Linked DNA regions of Homo sapiens. The protein of the gene in region 4 purifies or fractionates together with the protein of the main gene of each other region. This does not show direct contact. Each region holds a gene or a part of one and is shown on either strand. Other genes may lie near its edges. The genes, in order: DDX42, NNT, KDM4C, GLUD1, NSRP1, CPSF6 and NRCAM.

Region 1 (3,500 bases), on a different chromosome or scaffold from region 4:
ATTGAGCTTATGCCGGAGATCTATTAACTGCTGTGGAGTGAGGTTGGTTATCTCTTCATGCTCATTGTAAAAGTTTTTTTCAAATGGTGGATAGTCAATCTGCAGGTCCAATTATTCAAAGTTAGTCTAGAATTCAAGAGTCAATTCTGTAAGTTTGATTTTATTGCAAAATAATCTTTTCCAAATTTTACACAAGTAAAGCCATTCCAGCTAGAGAAAGCAAAAAAATTAATTTATTCTCAGCTTAGATCCTAAAAAGTATAGCTAGTTTGTTTTCTGTTCCTATTTTCAATATAAACACCAACCTACTTCTTTTATTGGTTGAGACAGTTTCGCTCTGTCACCCAGGCTGTAGTGCAGTGGTGCGATCCTGGCTCACTGCAGCCTCCACCTCCCCGGTTCAAACAATTCTCACGCCACCTCAGCCTCCCAAGTAGCTGGGATTACAGGCATGAGCCACTGTGCCTAGCCTAACACCAACCTACTTCCTAAAGAGACTCTTAAGGAAACCTCGAATTTGAACAACATTGAAGCAGACTAAGGAATCTCTCTATAATGCCAAAGACCTCAGAGGACAGAGAAGATATTTCACCATATAACATTTAAATATGTTTTGAATAAAGCTGTTTAACCTAGCTCTAAGCATTTAAAAACACTCCTAATATTTATTTTGGAGATAGCTCTGCTTTTAGAGGGAGTTCTATTCTGTTTAAAAACATGGAGTTGTTTATAACTTTTAAAAAATGTATGGCCAAGAATTTCCAATTCCAGAAAGTAGTAGTCACTTCTATTATTCTTTTCATAGCTTAGTGTAGTAGGTATACAAAACATAAGCACATCACCACCTATCAATTTGGCTAAATTATTTTTTATAAACTATTTTTTTTTTCAGAGACAGGGTCTTGCTATGTTGCCCAGGCTAGACTCAAACTCCTGGGCTCAAGTGATTCTCCTGCCTCAGCCTCTCCAGTAGCTGGGACTCCAAGCATGCACCACCATGCCTGGTTCTTAAACTTATTTTTTAAGAAAAATATAAGCATTCTATAGGTAGTTAAAAAAAAAAATCATAGTTCTGGATACATAAAAAAAATTGGAAGAAGAGTGACACTATTGTATTTTCACAAATCTCTTTATTAATGTCGACTTAAATAGCTCCTACTATATTCAAATTATTGCAATAGGTTGGTTTTATTTAAGCCTATAAGAAATTCTTGCCTCCAGGCCTGGAGCAGTGGCTCATACCCGTAATCCCAGCACTTTGGGAGGCTGAGGCCGATGGATCACTTGAGGTCAGGAGTTCAAGACCAGCCTGGCCAACATGGTGAAAGCCCGTCTCTACCAAAAATACAAAAATTAGCCGGGCGTAGTGGCACACACCTGTAGTCCCAGCTACTCGGGAGGCTGAGGCAGGAGAATCTCTTGAACCCGGGAGGAGGAGGAGGTTGCAGTGAGCCAAGGTTGCGTCACTGCACTCCAGCCTGGGCGACAGAGCAGGACTCCATCTCAAAAAAAGAAAAAAAAGCAAAGGAAAAATACGTAGTTGAAAAAGAGAGGACAGTATTTTAGTAGCCTTTTCAGATACCTTTTTTTTTTTTTTTTTTTGAGATGGAGTCTTGCTCTGTCTCCCAGGCTGGAGTGCAGTGGCACAACCTCAGCTCACTGCAACCTCCTCCTCCAAGGTTTAAGTGATTCCCCTGCCTCAGCCTCCTGAGTAACTGGGATTACTGATGCCTGCCACCAATCCCAAAGACGGGGGTTTCACCATGTTGGCCAGGCTGGTCTCAAACTCCTGCCCTCAAGTGATCTGCCCACCTTGGCCTCCCAAAGTGCTGGAATTACAGGCATGAGCCACCGCACCCAGCCCTTTTCAGATACTTTTTATTTTACACTAAAACTTGACAAGTGGTCATTTCCTAAAAGTTATTTTCATTGTGTAATCTGAAACCATATTACTGAAGTTTTCACACTCTGTTACATTATAATCCATTTATTTATCATGTATTTTGAGTTGAGCTTTTATTCATGCTTGACTTTGTAATGTCATACATTGATCATTTGGAAAATATTGGTTCACTGAGGTTATATACAGATCATCCAAATGTTAACACATTTCATTATATTAAAAATCAGTTACTAATATCACCATCAATTTTGTCACAATGGTCTTTAAGTACTGAAAAGCTGTCAAGCCTACTGTGGTAGATGTAAGTTTTCCAAATTCTAATTTTTGCTTGAAAGCTTGAATTTTTTTTTTTTTTTGAGATGGAGTGTTGTTCTTATTGCCCAGGCTGGAGTGCAATGGCATGATCTCGGCTCACTGCAACCTCCGCCTCCTGGATTTGAGTGACTCTCCTGCCTCACTCTCCCGAGTAGCTGGGATTACAGGCATGCACCACCATGCCTGGCTAATTCTGTATTTTTAGTAGAGATGGGGTTTCTCCATGTTGGTCAGGCTGGTCTCAAACTGCTGACCTCAGGTGATCCACCCGCCTCGGCCTCCCAAAGTGCTGGGATTACAGGCATGAGCCACCATACCCAGCCTGAATTTTGTTATTAAAAAACAAAATTTAGATGGAGTTTCACCAAGTTGCCCAGGCTTATCTCAAATTCCTGAGCTCAAGCGATCTACCCGCCTCAGCCTCCCAAAGTGTTGAAATTACAGGCGTGAGCCATTGCGTCTGGCCGAAAGCTTGAATGTCTATCATGGGTAATAAACACTTTCAATTGTTTTCCTTGAAATGTCATTGATTTTGTCCAGTGAAAGTGGTGTTCTATGAAAAAAAGTAGCTAGTTCACCTTACAACTCAAACACATAAGTGCTTTTCCTTGAAATGGCTATCATATTTTGGTATGCAACAGAAATGCTTTATGCGTACTTCCCATTTTATCACACAGAATAAAAAGACATGTAGCTCAAGGGTCACGACTTTAATAATTTTTACTGTTCAGGGCATTCTTGAGTGAAACTGGCCTTTTTTTTTCTTTTTAACTGCAATGGTCTGAGAACAGAGAATACGCCTACTAGAACAGTTTGGTGCCACTGGCTTGATTCATGCTAAGGCATCAGCAGTTTTACTTATCACTGCTTTTACACCAACAATGTAAATGTTGATGCAGTAACAAAGGAAAACAATCTTGGTATAATGAAAAGTGTTTGGACTCTGTAGGCTCCCTGAAAGGGGTTCTTGGTCCACACTGAGAACCACTGCTCCAGATCTAGAATCATTAGTGTATGTGAGATCTCGGCTGATATTTAACCTGGATGAAACACTGATATTTTTTCAAGTGGGTATACCGATGTCCTCATTCCTTAAGGATCCTGTAATTACTGGCTCCACTGTGAAGAAACAGCCTCTCATCTGCCCCAGATCTAGGACCAACAGTAAAAATTTATAGCAATTAAAAAAACAAATGTGACCGGATGCAGTGGCTCACATCTGTAATCCCAGCACTTTGGGAGACCAAGGTGGGTGGATCACTTGGGGTCAGGAGTTCGAGAC
Region 2 (3,500 bases), on a different chromosome or scaffold from region 4:
CTCCCCATTGCAACCCAGGCCCTCTTCTCTATAGCCAGTGCTTTCTCCTGAGCACATAAGAAACACCTGGAACATGAAGAAGACCTTGGTTTTCAGGTGGGTAGGTGGGAGCAAAGTCCCAAGGTAAAGAAATGCAAAAATCTGGGCAGTAAATACCCAAATTAGGAGCCTCTGAAGGAACTGCATGGCTATAGGTAGGTGATACAGAAGGAGTGGGGCTCAGAATATTTGCTAAGATCATGTCTAAAGGTTTTCCTGCCATGAACCTACAGAGCAAACATTTTCCTTCAAGTCCCTTTCCCCAGAGATTATCAAGAAAAGAGTCAAAGCTTTCCTGAGGAAGTATAAAAGGAGGCCTAAAGCCAGTGTTCCACTGGGAAACATTTAATAACCAGTTCCAGGGGAAAAAAATACATGCACATACAAATACATGAGCTTTAACTGATATAAAGGTGGCTAGCACACAATTTTCAAATAATAAGAAATAGTGCTCTTTACTGAAAATTCCATGTAGACAAATTGACTTTCAAAGAATGTTTTTATGGATCTTTGCTAAACTCTTACATCTGTAGCCAACCTAGTGTTTGCAACTGATGAACAAGCATACTTCCAACAGGAACATTGTTTGATATTTTTATTTGCTTTAATAAGTAAGACGAAAGTAAAACAACAGAATGTATGCGAGAACTTCACTCATTTATCAACCATATGAATGACTTTATTGCTGAATCTGATAATAGTTTTCAAATACTGGAAGATTATTTGCTCAATTATTTGTGCTATTCACAATGTCACAGCTACAGTCAAAACATCTCAAGTTTAAGCTGCATCATTAACATTTTCTCCATCACTTTCTCACGTCTGGACAATAAACAAAACAATAAATCAAGCCCAGATTTGTAGCGTTTGCTTATTTCCACACTGCAATACTGCTACCAAGTCAAATTTCAATCTACCAATGTGATGTCATTGAATGTAGAATTGGAAAGAGATGTACCACAGCCCACTGATACATAGTATTTCTTCTATACACATACAATAGACATAAGTAACCTCAAGAGCATAGACAATAAAACCTAGTAAATTAATTAGAAAGTTACGAGTTTTTAATATTATTAACTTTGTTTCTGATTCATTTAAGTTTATGTAATTTAGTATTTAATAATGGCTGTGTTTAACAATCAACTTTAAAAATTCCTGGAAAAAAAATTTTTTTTTTTTTTTTGAGACAGAGTCTCGCTTTGTCACCCAGGCTGGAGTGCAGCAGCATGATCACAGCTCACTGCAACCTCCACATCCCAGGTTCAAGCGATTATCATGCTTCAGCCACCCAAGAAGCTGGGATTACAGTTGTACGCCACCATGCCCAACTAATTTTTGTATATTTAATAGCGACGGGGTTTCACCATGTTGGCCAGGCCAGTTTCAAACTCCTGGCCTCAAGTGATCCACCCACATCAGCCTCCCAAAGTGCTGGGATTACAGTCTGAGCCACCATGCCCAGCCTAAAAATTCCTGAAAATTTAACAATCCAGCAAACAACTGAATAAAATTAAAACAGTAGTTTTTCTGCTGGCACATGTTTTTTTTTTTTTTTTTCATTTTTAACAGGTCTATGAAGCAGAATCTTTGGCTGTTATTTATACCCAGCAGAACAAAAGTTAGCTTATGTATAGTACATACATAAGGATTCCAATCCCCCATTCCATTATCAGCTAACGGGACACAGTCAGTAAAGGAAGATAAGAATTGAGTATAGGATATTTTGACTCAGTTGATGCATTTATTCAGTGTTCTAAAATGTATTTGAATGAGAATTACACCAACTGGAATGAATTTTCACCAAAATAATATTAACTGAAGCAACTTCCATGAACAAAATTTAATTATTTCATCAATATGGACCTTAGAAATATATATTGAGAAACTGGAGTTCACATGAAGGCAGAAGCCCACAAGTGCTTACCAATGGTACCACCCAAAGCCATCGCTCCAGACATCTGAGCTAGTAATTCTGGGCCCGGTTTTAGGACTCCGAGGGTGGCTGCCAGTCCTCCAGCAACCCCAATCATGCCCAGTGCATTGCCAAGACGTGCTGTTCCCTGGGTGGAGAGGCCAGCCAAGGCACCGACACAGCACAAACCCGAGCCTAGGTACATGATCTTTTCAAAGGAAAAGTGAGAGAGAGATTATTAAAACCTTTGGTCTATTAGCTTAGAGATTTCAATATATTTTCCTGCCAATTAGGAATATTAACATATTAAATACTTATATTGTATTTGCACTTATACCATTTATATAAATTGATTTTTTCTGGATTTGCTATCATGCACAAATACACATAAAAGTACCTAAATTTAAATGGAGTCATTACTGGATCTAAAAATACTAAACCTGACCAAATGCTGTAAAAGAGCCAACCCCTGAGGTAAGTGCCAGGGGCTTTGCCACATGTTTTATTTGTGTTGTCACAGTGTCATGAGATCCACAAGAGGGAAAAATCATTATCCTCATTTTGCAAAAGACAGAATCAAAGCTTAAAGAAGTTGCATATTTTCTCCAAGGCAAATGATCAATAAATTGGAAATCTGGAATTCAGACTAAGGTCTTTCTGACTCACTGCTCCAACTCTTCTCAAAAAAAAAAAAAAAATTGTTCATTCAATAAATACTGCAGGTTGGAAACATAGAAGAAACTAAAAGACAGCCATTGAAAAGAAATAGAAAATACAGAGTTCAGAACAAAGCTGAAGGTCTGTTATATTACAAGTTGGAACTTTCAAAGTCCAGCTGGATTATTTCTGTTTTTCTATACAACATTAAGTTTAAACTATCCTTTTCTTTATGGATTTTTTTATGAATATATAACATCTCTTAGTAGCAAGAGATGATGTGCTGGATTTGTAGAGGAAGAATAGGAAAAGAACTAATAGTACTTAATAATAATTTTTCAAATTTTGTATTGTTTCATTATAAATCCACCGCAATCTAGCTAGATACATAATGAAGATACTGATAACCTTAACTCCTCTTACATGTGGAAAAATGTATCAAAACAAAGACATAAACCCATATTTAAACTCAGTTACCAGAAAAATCTGTCTCTAGAATCCAGGGTCCTGATCCTTAGGGGAAGAGAATGCTCAGTTTGACCAAGATGTTTCTAGGGTTATTGTTGTATTTGCTTGACAGAGTTGTATTTGCTCGATACTTTGAATTAGGATAACTAACAATGTTAAATCTAATAGAGAAGAAAATATTGTGGTAAATATAAAAACTTACAAAGAGCATCTTACCTGTTCAATGTTATAACCACTGTAGAGGGCAGCTAAATATCCACCAACAAAGGTGCCGGCAGGGAGCAGGTACAGGTAGTTGTATTCTGGGGGGTCAGTGGGACGCTTGAACATGTCCAGCATTCTCTGAGTCACCAGAAAGCCACCTTAGCAAACCAAAGGAAATAAAAAACATAGTACCTCTTTGAGCTCACTGAGCAACATG
Region 3 (3,500 bases), on a different chromosome or scaffold from region 4:
ATGAAACTACTATTTCCTTTTTAAAAAACTGCTTTAGTATTCCCACAACTAGCATTTAGGCTTTGTTTATCCCTTTTATTATGAAAGTCAGAGTTTAGCTTAATGATGAACTGACACAAACATCAGTAACTTTCTGAGACAGAAGGTAGTCAATCCATGAAAAACCTATAAAAGAATAGACAGACATTCAATTATGCCGAGTCCCCTTTGATCTACTCCTGAATACTTTTAATGTTGCTTCTACTAACAAGATTGCAAATGCCTTGATGGTATCTTTGTTTGCTCCTGGTGTTTTACACAGAGCACACATTCAGTAAGTATTTTTGTGCACCAATAAATGTCAACACAAAGAAGCATCATGTGACTTCATTAGAAGAAAAGTAAAGCACATGCATTAATTTCCCCGATTTTGGTTGAATTTGAAGTTTGCATTCAATAGGTTCCACTAAGGAAAATGTTGCATTGGCTTTTTTTAGAATTAATCCAAAAGCCCAAGTATGTTTCCTGCTGGGCTTGGGAAACATGAGGTGAGGACAAGGAATTCACTTGGCAGGTCCCCAAGTGGCATCTGCCAGCACTTACAAATCGAGCTTTCACTCTCTTGGGTAACTCTTCATCTAAAGTGTAGATGTCCTCTCTCTTCATTGCTATCTGGGATCCATCTTCAAACTCAACCTAATGAAAGATAATATAACATGATACATATTAAAAAAACAGCACTGACCATTTTTAAAGGCTCCAATTAACTACATGAAAAGATGAAAAGGACTCAAACAGAACAAACAAGGGAACCAGCCAACAACCAAGGAAGTAAGAAGAGTTATTTCCCTTATTAAGTAGAGGCCGGGCATGGTGGCTCACGCCTGTAATCCCAGCACTTTGGGAGGCTGAGGCAGGCAGATCCCAAGGTCAGGAGATCGAGACCATCCTGGCCAACATGGTGAAACCCTGTCTAACAAAAATACAAAAATTAGCCAGGCATGGTGGCGCATGCCTGTAGTCCCAGCTACTCAGGAGGCTGAGGCAGGAGACCCGCTTGAAGCTGGGAGGCAGAGGTTGTAGTGAGCTGAGATCGCACCACTGCACTCCAGCCTGGTGACAGAGTAAGACTCCGTCTCAAAACAAAAAAATAAATAAATAAACTAAATACAAAATACATTTCAAAACAGGCCAAAATTCTTGGAAATGAGTGTCTTGGAATACAGGATATGAAAACTTTATCTGGCGAAGCAACAACAAAGAAAAGTAGCTGCTGATCAAATGGAAATCACAAAACATGAGACTGTGGGAAATTCAGCATTAAAATGGGTTGGGTCTGTCAGCACGGTTCATTTCTTTAAGAGGCTCTGACAACGTAACAAGGAGAATTGTTTCTCTCTGTGAAAGAAAAGATAATATATTTCCTTTTTTTTTTTTTTTTTTTAAATTGAGACAGGGCCTTGCCCTGTTGCTCAGGCTAGAGTGCAGTGGCCTGATCTCAGCTCACTGCAACCTCAACCTCCCAGGCTCAAGCAATCCTCCCACCTCTGCCTCCTGAGAAGCTGGAACCATAGCTGTGTGCCACAACGCCCAGCTATTTTATTTTATTGTAGTTTTTTAGTAGAGATAAGGTCTGACTAGACTCAAGCAATTCTCCCACCTTGGCCTCCCAAAGTGTTGGGATTACAGGTGTCAGCCACCATGCCCGGCCTGTTTACTCTTATATAATAATCCTCCCAGATAAAATAATTTATGCATTTCTTACAGAGCTTGAACTTTCAAAATTCACGTGTCAAATTCAATCAAATGCCATCAAAGGAGCTGGGAAAATCTGTTTCTCAACCTCCTAACATGTAAACCTCATCAATGTGTGAAAATACATCATCATCTAAAACAAAATGTTTAAAACTTTTCTCGCACTAACCAAATGGAAGCAAATAATTTCATAACCAATTGTTTTTAACATTTTAAAAGATTTTGTCAAAGAAAAGGTAAATAACACCAGCTAACAGAAACCTAGAGCACCTAGGTTTAGATTGGTTTAGGTTTAATACAACATGAACTAATCTAGCAGGAAACAAAACGGATGTAATCAGGTAGAATACTTAATATGTTCTAACTCTGAACCACATGGTATTTTTGAAGTCCCTAAATTTTGTCTGAATTTTTTAAAGAAATGAAAATATGCTTATACTTCTAGTCAAAAGGTAAGTTAAACCACACAGCTGTGCCATGTTAATAAAAAAAAAATCTAGAGTTTGAAAAAAATTTACACTAATTTTTTTTTGGTTTTTGGTTTTCTCTTGAGACGGAGTTTCGCTCTTGTTGCCTAGGCTGGAGTGCAACGGCGCGATCTCGGCTCACTGCAACCTCTGCCTCCTGGGTTCAAGTGATTCTTCTGCCTCAGCCTCTCAAGTAGCTGTAATTATAAGCATGCCGCCAACCATGCCTGGCTAATTTTTATACATTTTTTTAGTAGAGACGGGGTTGCACCACGTTGGCGAGGCTGGTCTCGAACTCCTGACCTCAGATGATCTGCCTGCCTCGGCCTTCCAAAGTGCTGGGATTACAGGCATGAGCCACTGTGCCCAGCTACACTTATTGTTTAATTCACAGAATGTCCAACTGATATATCGCTGCACTTTGCACTAAGCAAACACTCTCTTGAGTGGATGATAATATTAACTGGCCACATCTGTGCCAATGCATTGGTCTAGCTTTGCTGAGACACCCAGGTGGGTATGTCTCTCAGGCACAAGTTACCAATTCTGGTTGATGAACATCCACCACGGTCTTAATAAAGATCAAACATACAATTGAACGTATTATTATCCACGTACTGTTAGCATTTTGAATAAGCTAAACAATACAGTGGAATTAGGTGCCAGTCACATGAGAACCCTTGCTGTCACTTCCGGGAGGGCTAACAATGGGAAGGGTTTTCTTCCTGGCCTTGTTTGAGCAGAAACATTTCTTTAACATTGAACTAGGCCATAGTGTCATCTGATTTACCCAACTTAGTTGATAGCATAGCTAGAACCACCTGTGCCTACTTTCATTTGTTTTAGACCACTTAAAACATCGAAAAGACAAAAAGGCAATTACAAACCTAGAAGGGAGTATGCTGTGCTAGGACTAGGGTAACCAACCGTCCTAGTTCGCCTGGGACTCAAGGGTCCCTTGGGATGTAGTTATTTTCAGTACTAAAATCAGGGATGGTCCCAGGCAAGCAGGGATGGTTGTCCACCCTAGTTAGGGCAGAGCTGAGAGAGAATTTTGGCCCTCTCTTTACCAGCTGCGTGCTCTCGGACAAATTATTAAAAAATTATTCTTAAATCATTAAAAATTTTGTTCACAGCCTTTCTTCCCTCATTTGTAAGACAGGAGTCAATAACATCTATTTTGTAGGACTACTCTGAGGGTCAAAAAACGCATATGCCTAGGATATTAAGCACTGTGCAGCAGGTATTTATTTATCTGTCATATCTATTTTTAAAACTGTCTTTGTTTATTTGATGGTG
Region 4 (3,500 bases):
CTGTTGGGAGTGGGAGGGTAGAAAAAATGCTGCAGCTTCTTGTGGGTATCCTTCACACACAAACACCCAGTGCCCCAAGCACTGTGCAGTCAAACATCAACCCCACTCAGACTTTCCTCCTTGGGATTGAGAAGCAATGGATTATAGAGAAAGAAAGGTGGATTAGCACTCCAAAACTTTGAAGAGTAATTGACCAAGACCCCCAAAGCCAAAGCTGTGGGCATCCCCACTTCCAGTATACCCTGTACCAACACGTAATGGCTACTAGATACAGGGGCACTAGTACCTACCTGTCTGCTTGGCTACCTGCCCTCTTTGCAGAAGTGGTGAAGGGAATCACTCAACCTCAGAAAGGGAAAATGGCTTTCTCATTTTCAGATTGAAAGAGGTTGGCAGTGGGTGAGGAGAATAACAGGTAAGGATCTCTTTTAATATACCCATTTGAAGCCAAAACCTCTGTTTAGACATACGGTATTTTGAACCTGGTGATTATTCATTGCCCATGTTTGTGAATTATCAGAAAGCAGAATTCTTGCCAGGCATAGTGGCTCATGCCTGTAATCCCAGCACTTTGGGAAGCCAAGGTGGGAGGATCACTTGAGCCCAGGAGTTTGAGACCAGCCTGAGCAACATGGTGAGATCCTGTCTCTACAAAAAATTCAAAAATTAGCTGGGCATGGTGGTGTGCACTTGTGGTCCCAGCTACTCAGGAGGCTGAGGTGGGAGGATTACCTGAGCCTAGGAGGTTGAGGCTACAGTAAGCCATGTCTGTGCCACTACACTCAGCCTGAGCAACAGAGCAAGACCCTGTTTCCCACCCCTACCCCCCCAAAAAAAAGCAACCTGAATTCTTGAACTCCCTGCAACCAGGTCACCCAAACCAAAGGTAAAAGGAACATAAAAAAGCCTTCTGGAAAGTGTACAGAAATTCATTGCAGGGTGATTTTTGTCTTGTGAAATCATAGTTACTGTTATTAGCAGGTTTTTTTAACGTTTTATATTCATTTTTCATGGTGTTCTGATGTACAAGCTGCTTCAAGTGTTTTTGGACATAGCTTGGATGTAAAATGTAAAAAGTGGATATTTTCAATTTGTAGCTTTCTTTTTTGAAGCTTACTTAAGTTTGTTCTAAATATAACCCCTTCTTTCTCACCCACCCCAACACATTTTTTTAAAAACACCACCAGGTATCCGTTACAGCACTGATGTGAGTGTAGATGAAGTAAAAGCTTTGGCTTCTCTGATGACATACAAGTGTGCAGTGGTTGGTAAGTGATCGCCTTTCTTGCTGCCTAATGAGAACTCTGGGGAAATATGTTTACACACATGTTACTGTTAAGATGCTGTAGAAATATACCTTATCAGAACTGATTTTTTTTCAAGTTGTAATCTTTAAGACCTGCATCATTTTTCAATTAGTCTAAATTAAGATATAGCCTTTTTTTTTTACATGGGGGATTTTTTAAAATAGGAGATAATTGGATTTTAAGTCTAGATCTTTGTTTTCAATTCCTCAACACATTCTGTAAATAAGACCAAATTATAGTAGAAGGAGAGTAAATAAGCTATTATCTTTTAGAAGTGGTAAAGAGCACTGATTAAATATATATTAGAACTTGGCTAGCCAATTTTATTGAACAATTTCTGTTCAACAAAATGTTGTTTAAAGTACAGTTTAGAAAATGATGGTAGGTTTATTTCTTGAATTTTCAGAAATTCAAGCTTAAAGCATCACGTTTCTCTAATATTGTGTGGTGCTTTCTGTCATTTTACTTTTTTAACATTTATATGGAATAGCAACCATCAGCCTTCTCTTTCAGATGTGCCGTTTGGGGGTGCTAAAGCTGGTGTTAAGATCAATCCCAAGAACTATACTGTAAGTATGAAAGTGATATTTGTTTTTTATTGTTGTTGTTGTTTTTGTTTTTCTGAGACAGAGTCTTCCTCTGTTGTTCAGGCCGGAGTACAATGGCGCAATCTTGGCTCACTGCAACCTCCGCCTCCCGGGTTCAAGCAGTTCTCCTTGATCCAGTAACTGGGATTACAGGTGCACGCCACCATGCCCGACTAATTTTTGTATTTTTAGTAGAGAGGGGATTTCACCATGTTGGCCAGGCTGTTCTTGAACTCCTGACCTCAGGTGATCCACCTGCCTTGGCCTCCCAGAGTGCTAGGATTGCAGGCATGAGCCACCGCACCCGGCCTCAAAGTGACATTTGTGCACACAGTGCATTTATGAAGGACTTGAAATTACTGGGCTTCTCTGTATCCCCCACTATCAGTGAGATCAGTAGTCCCCATTGCTTTTCAAATGGAATAGAAAAATGTAAAGAATTAACTCATAGCGTGTTTTGCCATATAAAGATCACCTACTTAATATCTATATCCTTTATCATTTTCTGTTTCATTTGGTTTTGTTTTTATGAGTCTTTTGTTTTACTTTTTTGCTTTTTGTTTTATTATTTTCTTACTTAGTTAAAACGTAATTAATATCTTCACTTATATACTTATACCCATATTTATATAATGTCTTCACTTAGACACTTATACCCATATTTAAGAAATACTGTGATCTGATTAGCCAGGCATAGTGGTGCACACCTGTAATCCCAGCTACTCGGGAGGCTCAGGCATGAGAATTGCTTGAACCCAGGAGGCAGAGGTTGGCTGAGATTTCACCACTGCATTCCAGCCTGGGTAACAGAGCAAGACTCTGTCTCAAAAAGAAAAAAGTATTACTGTGATCTGAAGTTTTTATGTCAGGATCTGATTCTAGTGACACATATCTTAACTAAGACTATAAAAACCTTACTTTTTATCCAGTCAGTTCCAAGTTAATTCAAACTGATTGTCACAATGCTTTACATAATACTAAATTATCTATATACAAACATAAATGCATGATTTTTATTCTCTTTAAAATTCACCATTTAAATGGAATATAATTATATTTAAATTAATCTTAATTAAGATTTAGTGTATTTTTCAGTGGGGAATTAATAGAATGGGAATTTGAGCCCTAGTTCTACTATCTTGTTTTTATAACCTACTTTTTTGATCCCTTATTTTGTCACCTTTAAAATGGCAATGCCTACTTTATGAGTTGTTCTAAGGATTACATGAGAAGACATATGAAAATGTACTATAAATAGAAAATAAGATGCTAGCTATAATCTCAAGCGATTTTTATATCAATTTTTTCTTTTGTTTTTGTTTTCTTATTTTACAGGATAATGAATTGGAAAAGATCACAAGGAGGTTCACCATGGAGCTAGCAAAAAAGGGCTTTATTGGTATGTGTAGCCACATAGTTTTTGGTATAAAGTGGGAACATCTAAAAATTTTTTTTTTTTTTTGAGACGGAGTCTCACTCTGTTGCCCAGACTAGAGTGCAGTGGTGCGATCTCGTCCGCCTCCTGGGTTCAAGCAATTCTCTTGTCTCAGCCTCCCAAGTAGCTGAGATTACAGGCATGTGCCACCACACCCAGCTGATTTTTGTA
Region 5 (3,500 bases), on a different chromosome or scaffold from region 4:
ACAACAGGCGCCCGCCACCACGCCTGGCTAATTTTTTGTATTTTTAGTAGAGACGGGATTTCACCGTGCTGGCCAGGATGGTCTCAATCTCCTGACCTCGCAATCCGCCCGCCTTGGCCTCCCAAAGTGCTGGGATTATAGGCATGAGCCACCGTGCCCAGCCATTTTATTTTTTGAGATGGAGTCTGGCTCTGTCGCCAGGTTGGAGTGCAGTGGCGCTATCTCAGCTCACTGCAATCTCCGCCTCCCGAGTTTAAGCAATTCTCCTGCCTCAACCTCCCCAGGAGGTGGGATTACAGGCATGTGCCACAATGCCGAGCTAATTTTTGTATTTTTAGTAGAGACAGGGTTTCACCATGTTGGCCAGGATGGTCTCCATCTCCTGATCTCATGATCCACCTGCCTCAGCCTCCCAAAGTGCTGGGATAACAGGCGTGAGTCACTGCGCCCAACCTACTTTATTTACTTTAAATTAATTTAAGTAGCTACACGTGACTAGTGCCTACATACTAACAGTGCAGTTCTAGCCCCGATATGTAAGTCTTACATTTTAGGAAGGCTGGGTTCTATTTATGAAAACAAACCACTTTCCTTTTTATACACTATCTGAACATGTATATAAGACTTATATTGTAGACACCTAATTCTTTCCAACTTTCTCCTTAATTCTGACAGCAAAATCATTTTAAGGTACCAGGCACCAATCATTTTAAGGATCATGAGGAATACCCACATTCTTATTTAAAAAAAAAAAAAAAAAAAAAAAAGCAGCCAGGTGCAGTGGCTCATACCTGTAATCCCAGCACTTTGGGAGGCTGAGATAGAGGGGGGATCCCTCAAACCCAGGAGTTCAAGACCAGCCTGGGCAACATAAAGCCCCATCTCCACAACAAAAATACAAAAAGAGGCTGGGCGTGGTGGCTCATGCATATAATCCCAGTACTTTGGGAGGCCGAGGCGGGTGGATCACCTGAGGTCAGGAATTCGAGACTAGTCTGGCCAACATGGTGAAACTCCATCTCTACTAAAAATACAAAGATTAGCCGGGCGTAGTGCATGCACCTATAGTCCCAGCTACTCAGGAAGCTGAGGCACGAGAATCCCTTGAACTTGAGAGGCAGAGGTTGCAGTAAGCAGAGATCGCGCCATTGCACTCCAGCCTGGGTGACAGAGCAAGACTCCATTCCATCTAAAAAAAAAAAAAACAAAAAAAAAAAACCACACACACAACAACAACAACAAAAAACACAAAAAGAAAATTCGCTGGGCATGATGGCTTGCACCTGTAGTCCCAGCTACTTGGGAGGATCATTTGAGCCCATGAGGCAAAGGCTGCAGTGAGCTATGATTGAACCACTGTACTCCATCCACCCTAGGCGACAGAGTGAGACTCTGCCTCAAAAAAAAAAAAAAAAAAGAAAAAAGAAAAAACTACAATTTGATTTTGCTTTCCCTTGAAGATTTTGCTCTCCCTTGTTAAGACCCATAAATCACTTAAAAATTCAGAAACTTTATACATTAAAAGTCTGTCTTTGGTTTTACAATAATATTAAACTCAATCACTGTTTTAATGTAACAATTTCTGTGAAATGCAGAATAAAAATGATCTTAAACTAAATCTGTAGGTTTTAAAATCAAGAAACTGCAAATTTCTAGCCATTCATTCAGTTAGGTAAGGCTGGCTGACAACACAATATGCAATGTTGTAATCTTCCATCTTTCAGAGGGTTAAAATGACCCCACAACCACAGATTATTAACAGTATTTTTCTTCAAAATATTTCATACACGTCTCCTCACCTGGCTTCACGAAAGCTGCATTTAGGTACTTCCTCTTCACCAACTGCTTGATTTAATAGGTGCCTATAAAATCCACTGAGATCTTTCTGCTTGGTTACATCCAAACATGCTAACAGAGGGAAAGCAAAAATTAGAATATATTCAATAAGGCACAGTGCAGTTTCATTTTACAGACATACAGTATATAACATACAGTGTGTAAACTACTCGCTGGATCAGGAGTTGGCAAACTGCAGGCCAAATCTGGCCTGTTGCCTGTTTTCATAAATAAATTTTTATTGAAACAAAGCCCTGTTCATTTATGTATTGTCCACAACTGCTTTTGTACTACAAAGGCAGAGCTCAGTAACTGCGACAGAGATCATATACACAAAAAGCCCTAAAGTATGAATATGATCTGGCATTCAAAATATGAATTTATAAATTTAAAGTCTTAAAATATGAATACTAAAATACTATCTGGTCCTTTACAGAAAGTTTGCCGACTGGCACTCTAAACACATAGTACATGCTTAGACAGAATGTTATAGACTTGGTTTTCTTCTACTTAAAAGCTGAAGAGGATGGGCGCAGTGGCTCACGCCTGTAATCCTACAACTTTGGGAGGCTGAGGTGGGTGGATCACCTGAGCTCAGGAGTTCGAGACCAACCTGGCCAACATGGTAAAACTCCGTCTCTATAAAAATATAAAAATTATCCAGGTGTGGTGGTGCATGCCTGTAATCCCAGCTACTTGGGAGCCTGAGGCATAAGAATCACTTGAACTTGGGAGGCAGAGGTTGCAGTGAGCCAAGATCATACGACTGCACTCCAGCCTGGGCGACACAGCGAGACTCTGTCCAAAAAGCTGATGAGCATTTGTCAATTAAAGTATTTACAGGGCTGGTCATGGTGGCTCACACCTGTAATGCCAACACTTTGGGAGGCTGAGGCAGGAAGATTGCTTGAGCCCAGGAGTTCGAGACCAGCCCCGGCAACATAGTGAGACCCCGTCTCTACAAAAAATACAAAAAGTAACCAGACGTGGTGGTATGTTCCCGTAGTCCCAGCTACTCAAGAGGCTGAGGTGGGAGGATCACTGGAGCCTGGGAGGTCAGGGCTGCAGTGAGCCATGGTTGAGCCACTGCACTCCAGCCTGGGTGACAGAGACCCAGTCTCAAAAAAAAAAGTATTTTATAAATACATATTCTACTTAGATCTTGAGAAATAATCATGAGTAGAAAGCACTAAGGTAAAGCATTAAGATATTCTTAATTCATCCAATTTTTATTCTTTCTTCAATTAATGTTATTCTTTTTCTAATTGCCTCATTGATCCTCCTTGAGTGGTGTTACTCTATTATTTTCTCATCCCAAAAAAATGTAACTAGGGTTTAAAATTATATTTATATTGTTTCTGACAAATGCCATGGCGTTATACTTTGTAATAAATGTTTTTACATTTCAGATCATGTTCTAAGGCAAAAGCCACAAAATGAGAACTAAGAGAAAAGTCTAGTAGAAATAATAGTTACTGAAGAGTTCAACTGTGTTTTTAGTTAAACTTTCCTTTCTGTTTTATACTGCTATATAATACCATATTCCTTGTGTCTTGAATTCCTATATATAAATTATGATCACAAACTCATAACCCTAAAGTTCAGTGACAGAGCAAACAGCTAACCACAGGGGAGAGATTCTGCTACTGTTTCCTTGTGCCTTT
Region 6 (3,500 bases), on a different chromosome or scaffold from region 4:
GTCTTCATCTGTTGTCCACTGCAAGATATTTTCCCCCTCATTAACCATTAAAATAAAACCAAGATTTTTATTATCCCAGTCTAGTTTTTAAGGGGAAATTTGAGACATAAAAGAGAAAATAAATGCTGAGTGCAAATCTAAGTCTAGTTATGGCCAGTCAGACTCCAATTTTTAAACAGCACAAAAACCATCTGGGAACCTAACTTCATTCCCTGATAAGTATTTCAGAAACTAGAAGGTATATACCCTTGGGGTTACAATAAGATTTGACTCTCAAGAGTTTCTGGTCCCTTACAGCTTTAAACTGCTATGATTTTAAATTGTGAATAAAACCAATTTCACTTCCTCCCATTAAAGGAAAGTATTTTGAATTTCATCTTGTTTTTGAATTAAAATGCAGATAAGAAAAAACTAACATGTATTTAATATCTACCATATACTTTATGTATCAACTAACTCTTATAACAACCATATAAGCACTATTATTATACCCATTTTACACATGATACAATAGAAGTTAAAGAGCTTTAACTCTTTAACAAGGTCACAAAACTAATAATAGATGGTGGAGCTAAGATCCAAATACTTACTTAGCAACCATACTTTCATAACTACACTGCTACTGTCTCCAATTTTATAGAATACTCAGACTGGGTGGTGGGAGATCTGTTACATTTAGTTTTAAAAGAAATGTAAATAGGCTGGGCACCATAATCCTAGCACTTTGAGAGCTTGGTTAGGAGGATCACTTGAGGCCAGGAATTTGAGGCCAGCCTGAAGCAATATAGCAAGAAGTCAGCTCTACAAAAGTGTTTGTTTTGTTTTTAATTAGCCAGGCAGAGTGACACATGCCTGTGGTCCTAGCTACTTGGAGGCTGACACAGGAGAATCACTTCAGCCCAGGAGTTTGAGGCTTCAGTGAGCTATGATTACACCACTGCACTCCAGCCTGGGTGACAGAGTTTTGCAAATTCTGTCTCCCCCTGAAAAAAAGAAATGTAAATAAAACGTTTAAAAATACAGTGTTATTAAGGAAATGCAAGGGTGCCAAGTTTTATTGATTTTTGCATATACAAGTTTTTAACTTTCAAGTATACATATAACTAAGTAGAAATACAAACATTCTATAGGACTATTTTAATGATACTTAAGATGTAATATTAATAAAAAATAAATATACATATGTGCATTTAATGAAGCTCTAAATCAATAATCTTAGTCTCATGACAACCCAAATTAAAATATAATACGCACAGAAGTGCTTCTATAAATCAGATTTCAAATTTAAGGGCAGAAATAAAACTCAAATTTGTAACACAAATTAAATAATGGACACTATTTTTAAACCAGGAGTGATACTATGTCTCTTTCCTTTTACACTTGAATCCTGGTTTGAGACCCCATGTGAGCATTATTTTTAGTGAAACTGGGCTATCGGAAGCAAGGTAAAGTGGTAGCATAAAAAAGGTAACTGAAGACAAAACTAATTTAACTATATTTAACTAGTATCTCCACCAAGAAAAGTTGAATGACCACAAAACTCAAAACTAGAAGAATTCGAATTAACGATGTTGCAAAGATATTTGTATTTCCCTCCTCATTGGACAAGCAAACACATATAGAAAAACACAGTAACTTCAAACTTATAAAAATCTGGAGAAAAACATTAATTACTAGAGCAGTTCAAAATCAATTACCAATAATTTAATTCTTATATTAACTTCACTTACCCATGTTAGATTTCCAATATATAATGCAATTCTCTTTCCAGTATATGTATAGACAACATTTGGTGCTGCTCCTTTACCCACATCATCACCAACAGTTGGTGGGAGAGTATCCATGTAATCTCGGTCTTCTGGGGCATCTCCATTATTTGCAGATGGAGATATGACATCGTCATACAAATCTATCTGATCATGCCCACCATATTCAGCTTCCTGAGATACAGAAATAATGCTCTAGATTATACAAAAGTCAAAATACTACTAAAATAGACTTGAATACAAATTCAACTTTTTGTTTTAAAAATCTGATGGAAAAAGGCCAAGGATTTCAGTACAAATCTTTTTCCACTTTATGCAATAGATGTATTCTTGAACAGGTCTAAAAAGTGAATTTCTTGCCGGGAGTGGTGGCTCACACCTGTAATCCCAGCACTTGGGAGGCCGAGGCAGGTGGATCACTTGAGGTCAGGAGTTCGAGACCAGCCTAGCCAACATGATGAAGCCCTGTCTCTACTAAACATACAAAAATTAGCCAGGCATGGTGGCACACGCCTGTAATCCCAGTTACTCAGGAGGCTGAGGCAGGAGAATCGCTTGAACCTGGGAGGCGGAGGTTGTAGTGAGCCAAGATCGTGCCATTGCACTCCAGCCTGGGCGACAGAGCAAGACTTCATCTCAAAAAAAAACAAAAAAACAAAAAAAGGGGGTTTCCTTTATTTCTTTTCTTTTTTTTCTTTTTTTTTTTTTTTTTGTAGAGACCAGGTCTCGCTACATTGCCCACGCTAGTTTCGAACTCCTGAGTTCAAGCAATCCTCCTGCCTCGGCCTCCCAAATATAGGCTTGAGCCACTGCACCCAGCCTAAAGTTAATTTCTATATAACGAAACCTACTTTTCCACTGATATTTATTATAATATAAAAAATAAGTTCTTTTGGAAAAAGACATGGAAACAAAATAAGTAACATGAAACTTTCCTTGGAAATACTCTTAACTAGAAGTAATAACACACAAATGCAAATAGACAAGTTTTTTTTAAACTGACAGTAGAAAAATCACCCCAAAATCCAAAGCCATTATATCTTTAATATGACCACAGAAAAATAGTTATTATTTTCTATAGTATTCAGATCTTGTTTTCCAACCTTGAGGAAGCTACCAGTATTAAAAAAAAGCATAGTGAGCTGAGCCATAAAAGAAAGAAGAAATATGGGTATGTAAATAATTCAAAATGTCGTAATAAATGAACAAGGTAAAGAGAAATAAACGAAATACATGTAGAACAATCCAAATTAATTATCTTGCAAGTTGTATTATTCTCAGTGAACAAAGAGCTAATGCTTACCTGAATTCTTAGTTATCTAGTCAAGCAAATTAGCAAGAGAAAAGCAACAGACAACAAAAAGAGTATAGTAAAGCTTTGGCACTGTCACCAGCAGAATTAAAGCAATGCTACTGGGTGTCACTTACATGCCTAAATGATAATCAGGGAAAAGGAAAACTAAAATGAAACAGAAACAGGAGCAGGAAAAAAATAGAAGAGGGTTCAATTTGTAACTAAGTACATGAAAAATGAAATGTAGGTAAAAGCAGAACACTCAACACTATTTAATTGCCTTTGATAACCATTAAATAGACCATAAGCTTGACTAAGCCTGTAGCACAGGAAAATCTCCATTTTTATCTTCTACTCTCCCTTTCCACAACTAAGTACTTGTATTGGTGTGAACCATTTTATTCTTATGACATAGAACATCTGACATAAGGAAAAAGACA
Region 7 (2,644 bases), on a different chromosome or scaffold from region 4:
CTCTCTCTCTCTCTCCCTCCCCCCAGCCACACCAAGCTCCTTAGTGTTCCTAGAACCTGCCAGGCTTCCCCTCACCCCGAGACATTTATACTGCTTGTTACTCCTGCAGGAACTGCTCTCCCTCCAACTATTCACCTTGCTAACTCAACTCTTTTAAAGTTGTTGACCAGATATTACTGCTTGATGAGGTCTTCCTGGACATCTTATTAAATGCCAGCTCTCCATCCCTTCTCCAACACCTTCTGCAGTCTTTACTCAGCTCTATACTTTGCATAGTGCTAATCCTCTTCTGACATAATATATATGTAATTTTTTTTATTATGTTGATTGTTAATTGTATTTTCTTCCACTAGAAATAAAGCCAGTGAGGTGAGGGTTTTAGTCTGTTTTGTTTGCTGCTATATTCCCAGTGCCGAGAACAATCTATCTTAGAGTAGTCACTCAATAAACATTTATTGGATGAAGGCATGGGTGGATAGATGGCTAGACCAAAGAAATGCCACAGATGACAAATTTCCAGCAGTGTATTCCTTGGGACACTAGTTCTACAGAGCAGAATAAGACTAGTCATTGGAATCCAGGTGACAAATTCTGCCTGTTATTGAACTCTTCAGCTGAATTAACTGTCACACTGAAACATGAACTATATTTCACAAGAAGGATTTAATAATTAAACCCCAGAGATGTTGTGTAGGCTATTTTCATAACAGGTTAGACACTCAATGCTATGTCCTCTGAAATGCTCACAAACACAGACCACCCCAAGATGATACCTCTCCAGTTGTTTATTAGCAGTGGTGAAAATATAGTTTATTCAGTTTGCAATAAGAAATTGTGTATTACTGAAACAGGTTGTTTTCAGTGGCATATGCCAGTGTCATATTATGCTAGCATTATTTCCCAGTCTTCAGATTTTCTTCTTGGAGAAAAATTGAAATCCCTAGTAAAAGTTATTGTCAAAAGAGCCAGGATACTTGTGCATCTTGAAATGTTTGTATCTTGGCTTGAAAAAAAAAGTCACTGTCTGAAACAGAGGGAGCAGTAAAGTCTTAGCAGAAATTGCTAGATTAAATACTGCAGCCAGTGATACCTTTTGTATGTTAAGGCTTTTTCATTTTTACATTAGTAAAAATGTATATGTTTCCTATTTTGCCTTGCATTTTTGTTCTTTGAAAGAAAACAAAATGTTAGATCCTGTCATTGCCTTTTTCTATTTTTTTCCCAAATGTTACCTATTAAAAAATAGGTCAATATGCATAACTAGGTATTTGACCGTATGGGTGAACATTCAAAAACATAATGATTACTCTTTGTCTTCCAGAAATTGTGCTTACGGGTTCAACAGAGAAATAAGCAAAAATTGTAATAATGGAATCTTGTAAAGTCGTATTAAAGTACACTCCTCAGATTCCCATCCAGTATAGTCAGGCTGCATAACACACAAGGAAGAAGGGAGCTGGGGGGTTAACATGAGTGTAGGAAGCATTTGCTATTACATGTTTGGAGTCATTCACATTCTTTAGAATATATTGGCATGCCATTCATAGTACAAATGTAGAGCTTTTAAGTTAAAGTGCGTCTCTTTCCAGATTAATAAATCTTTACTCATTAACTAAAATTTTTACCAAAAAAACAAAAAAATACTGTGTACTATCAGTATAAGGATTTTGCTTTTCTTCTTAGGCTGTTTTCATTTGTTTCTTCTGCATCCTTTTAATGGAATTTTGTAGGTCTCTTGAAAGGTAAGGTTGAAGTTTACAGTCTGGCCTGCATTGATAACAAAATTATTTGAAATGCAGGATTTTGCTTCTCCTTCTGGCTCAGAAAAAAAAAATCCACATTTCACACTTAACCAAAATCATGCTCCATTCACAACCAAGGAATCAGAGATATTATGCAGTTTAACATACTAACTTCTTTACTTGCCATAAGCTTTTGCCTTTTTGAATTCAAAATAGTGATGATTTTTCTACTTTTCTGAATTCTTTCTTATTTAATGCTTGTGATTATTTCTGGATTGCTTTCAACTCAGGAATCAGAATTTGTCATTGAAATTAACAAACACTATTGGGAGCCATCCACTCTACTGAAGACTTCATGATTCAACCATTTCTGCTCCTGATTTCCATTCCAACTCATCCTCGTCATTGGAGTCAACCTGAAAATTAGATTTGGCCAGAGAAGCCCAGGACTCCAAATGCTTTCTCATAATTTGCATGCATGGTCTTTAAAAACAGAAAATGTTACCTAAATGCCAATCTTGACAAAAATGTTTTCTCTTTCTTCCAGTGATGCAGAAGACCACAAGCCTTTGAAAAAAGGAAGTCGAACTCCTTCAGACAGGACTGTGAAAAAAGAAGATAGTGACGACAGCCTAGTTGACTATGGAGAAGGGGTTAATGGCCAGTTCAATGAGGATGGCTCCTTTATTGGACAATACAGTGGTAAGAAAGAGAAAGAGCCGGCTGAAGGAAACGAAAGCTCAGAGGCACCTTCTCCTGTCAACGCCATGAATTCCTTTGTTTAATTTTTAAGCTCTTTGCCAATATTCCATTTCTCTAGAATGTTTATCCTAAGCACTTGTTTGTCAGCCCTCTCATACTATGAACATATGGGTAGAGAGTATATTTTCTGCTGTATGTTA

The links.
Region 1: the proteins of GLUD1 (region 4) and DDX42 purify together in Homo sapiens (affinity purification with mass spectrometry, with the first as the bait; one large-scale study listed by BioGRID). This does not show direct contact.
Region 2: the proteins of GLUD1 (region 4) and NNT fractionate together in Homo sapiens (co-fractionation; one large-scale study listed by BioGRID). This does not show direct contact.
Region 3: the proteins of GLUD1 (region 4) and KDM4C purify together in Homo sapiens (affinity purification with mass spectrometry; one large-scale study listed by BioGRID and IntAct). This does not show direct contact.
Region 5: the proteins of GLUD1 (region 4) and NSRP1 purify together in Homo sapiens (affinity purification with mass spectrometry, with the first as the bait; one large-scale study listed by BioGRID). This does not show direct contact.
Region 6: the proteins of GLUD1 (region 4) and CPSF6 purify together in Homo sapiens (affinity purification with mass spectrometry, with the first as the bait; one large-scale study listed by BioGRID). This does not show direct contact.
Region 7: the proteins of GLUD1 (region 4) and NRCAM fractionate together in Homo sapiens (co-fractionation; one large-scale study listed by BioGRID). This does not show direct contact.

What each region holds. Positions count from the first base shown.
Region 1 is NC_000017.11:63,801,670-63,805,169, reverse strand, and holds part of DDX42 (ATP-dependent RNA helicase DDX42), read right to left. Parts: intron 100-3,500; coding exon 1-99. UniProt on the Homo sapiens protein: ATP-dependent RNA helicase that binds to partially double-stranded RNAs (dsRNAs) in order to unwind RNA secondary structures. Unwinding is promoted in the presence of single-strand binding proteins.
Region 2 is NC_000005.10:43,651,680-43,655,179, reverse strand, and holds part of NNT (NAD(P) transhydrogenase, mitochondrial), read right to left. Parts: intron 3,442-3,500; coding exon 3,296-3,441; intron 2,163-3,295; coding exon 1,967-2,162; intron 1-1,966. UniProt on the Homo sapiens protein: The transhydrogenation between NADH and NADP is coupled to respiration and ATP hydrolysis and functions as a proton pump across the membrane. May play a role in reactive oxygen species (ROS) detoxification in the adrenal gland.
Region 3 is NC_000009.12:7,166,973-7,170,472, reverse strand, and holds part of KDM4C (lysine-specific demethylase 4C), read right to left. Parts: intron 676-3,500; coding exon 583-675; intron 1-582.
Region 4 is NC_000010.11:87,074,344-87,077,843, reverse strand, and holds part of GLUD1 (glutamate dehydrogenase 1, mitochondrial isoform a precursor), read left to right. Parts: intron 1-1,187; coding exon 1,188-1,268; intron 1,269-1,820; coding exon 1,821-1,876; intron 1,877-3,229; coding exon 3,230-3,293; intron 3,294-3,500. UniProt on the Homo sapiens protein: Mitochondrial glutamate dehydrogenase that catalyzes the conversion of L-glutamate into alpha-ketoglutarate. Plays a key role in glutamine anaplerosis by producing alpha-ketoglutarate, an important intermediate in the tricarboxylic acid cycle.
Region 5 is NC_000017.11:30,179,316-30,182,815, reverse strand, and holds part of NSRP1 (nuclear speckle splicing regulatory protein 1), read right to left. Parts: intron 1,909-3,500; coding exon 1,800-1,908; intron 1-1,799. UniProt on the Homo sapiens protein: RNA-binding protein that mediates pre-mRNA alternative splicing regulation.
Region 6 is NC_000012.12:69,249,569-69,253,068, reverse strand, and holds part of CPSF6 (cleavage and polyadenylation specificity factor subunit 6), read right to left. Parts: intron 1,941-3,500; coding exon 1,731-1,940; intron 19-1,730; coding exon 1-18. UniProt on the Homo sapiens protein: Component of the cleavage factor Im (CFIm) complex that functions as an activator of the pre-mRNA 3'-end cleavage and polyadenylation processing required for the maturation of pre-mRNA into functional mRNAs.
Region 7 is NC_000007.14:108,149,793-108,152,436, reverse strand, and holds part of NRCAM (neuronal cell adhesion molecule isoform A precursor), read left to right. Parts: intron 1-1,683; coding exon of another isoform or gene 1,684-1,717; exon of another isoform or gene 1,718-1,730; coding exon of another isoform or gene 1,731-1,742; intron 1,743-2,289; coding exon 2,290-2,527; 3' UTR 2,528-2,644. UniProt on the Homo sapiens protein: Cell adhesion protein that is required for normal responses to cell-cell contacts in brain and in the peripheral nervous system. Plays a role in neurite outgrowth in response to contactin binding.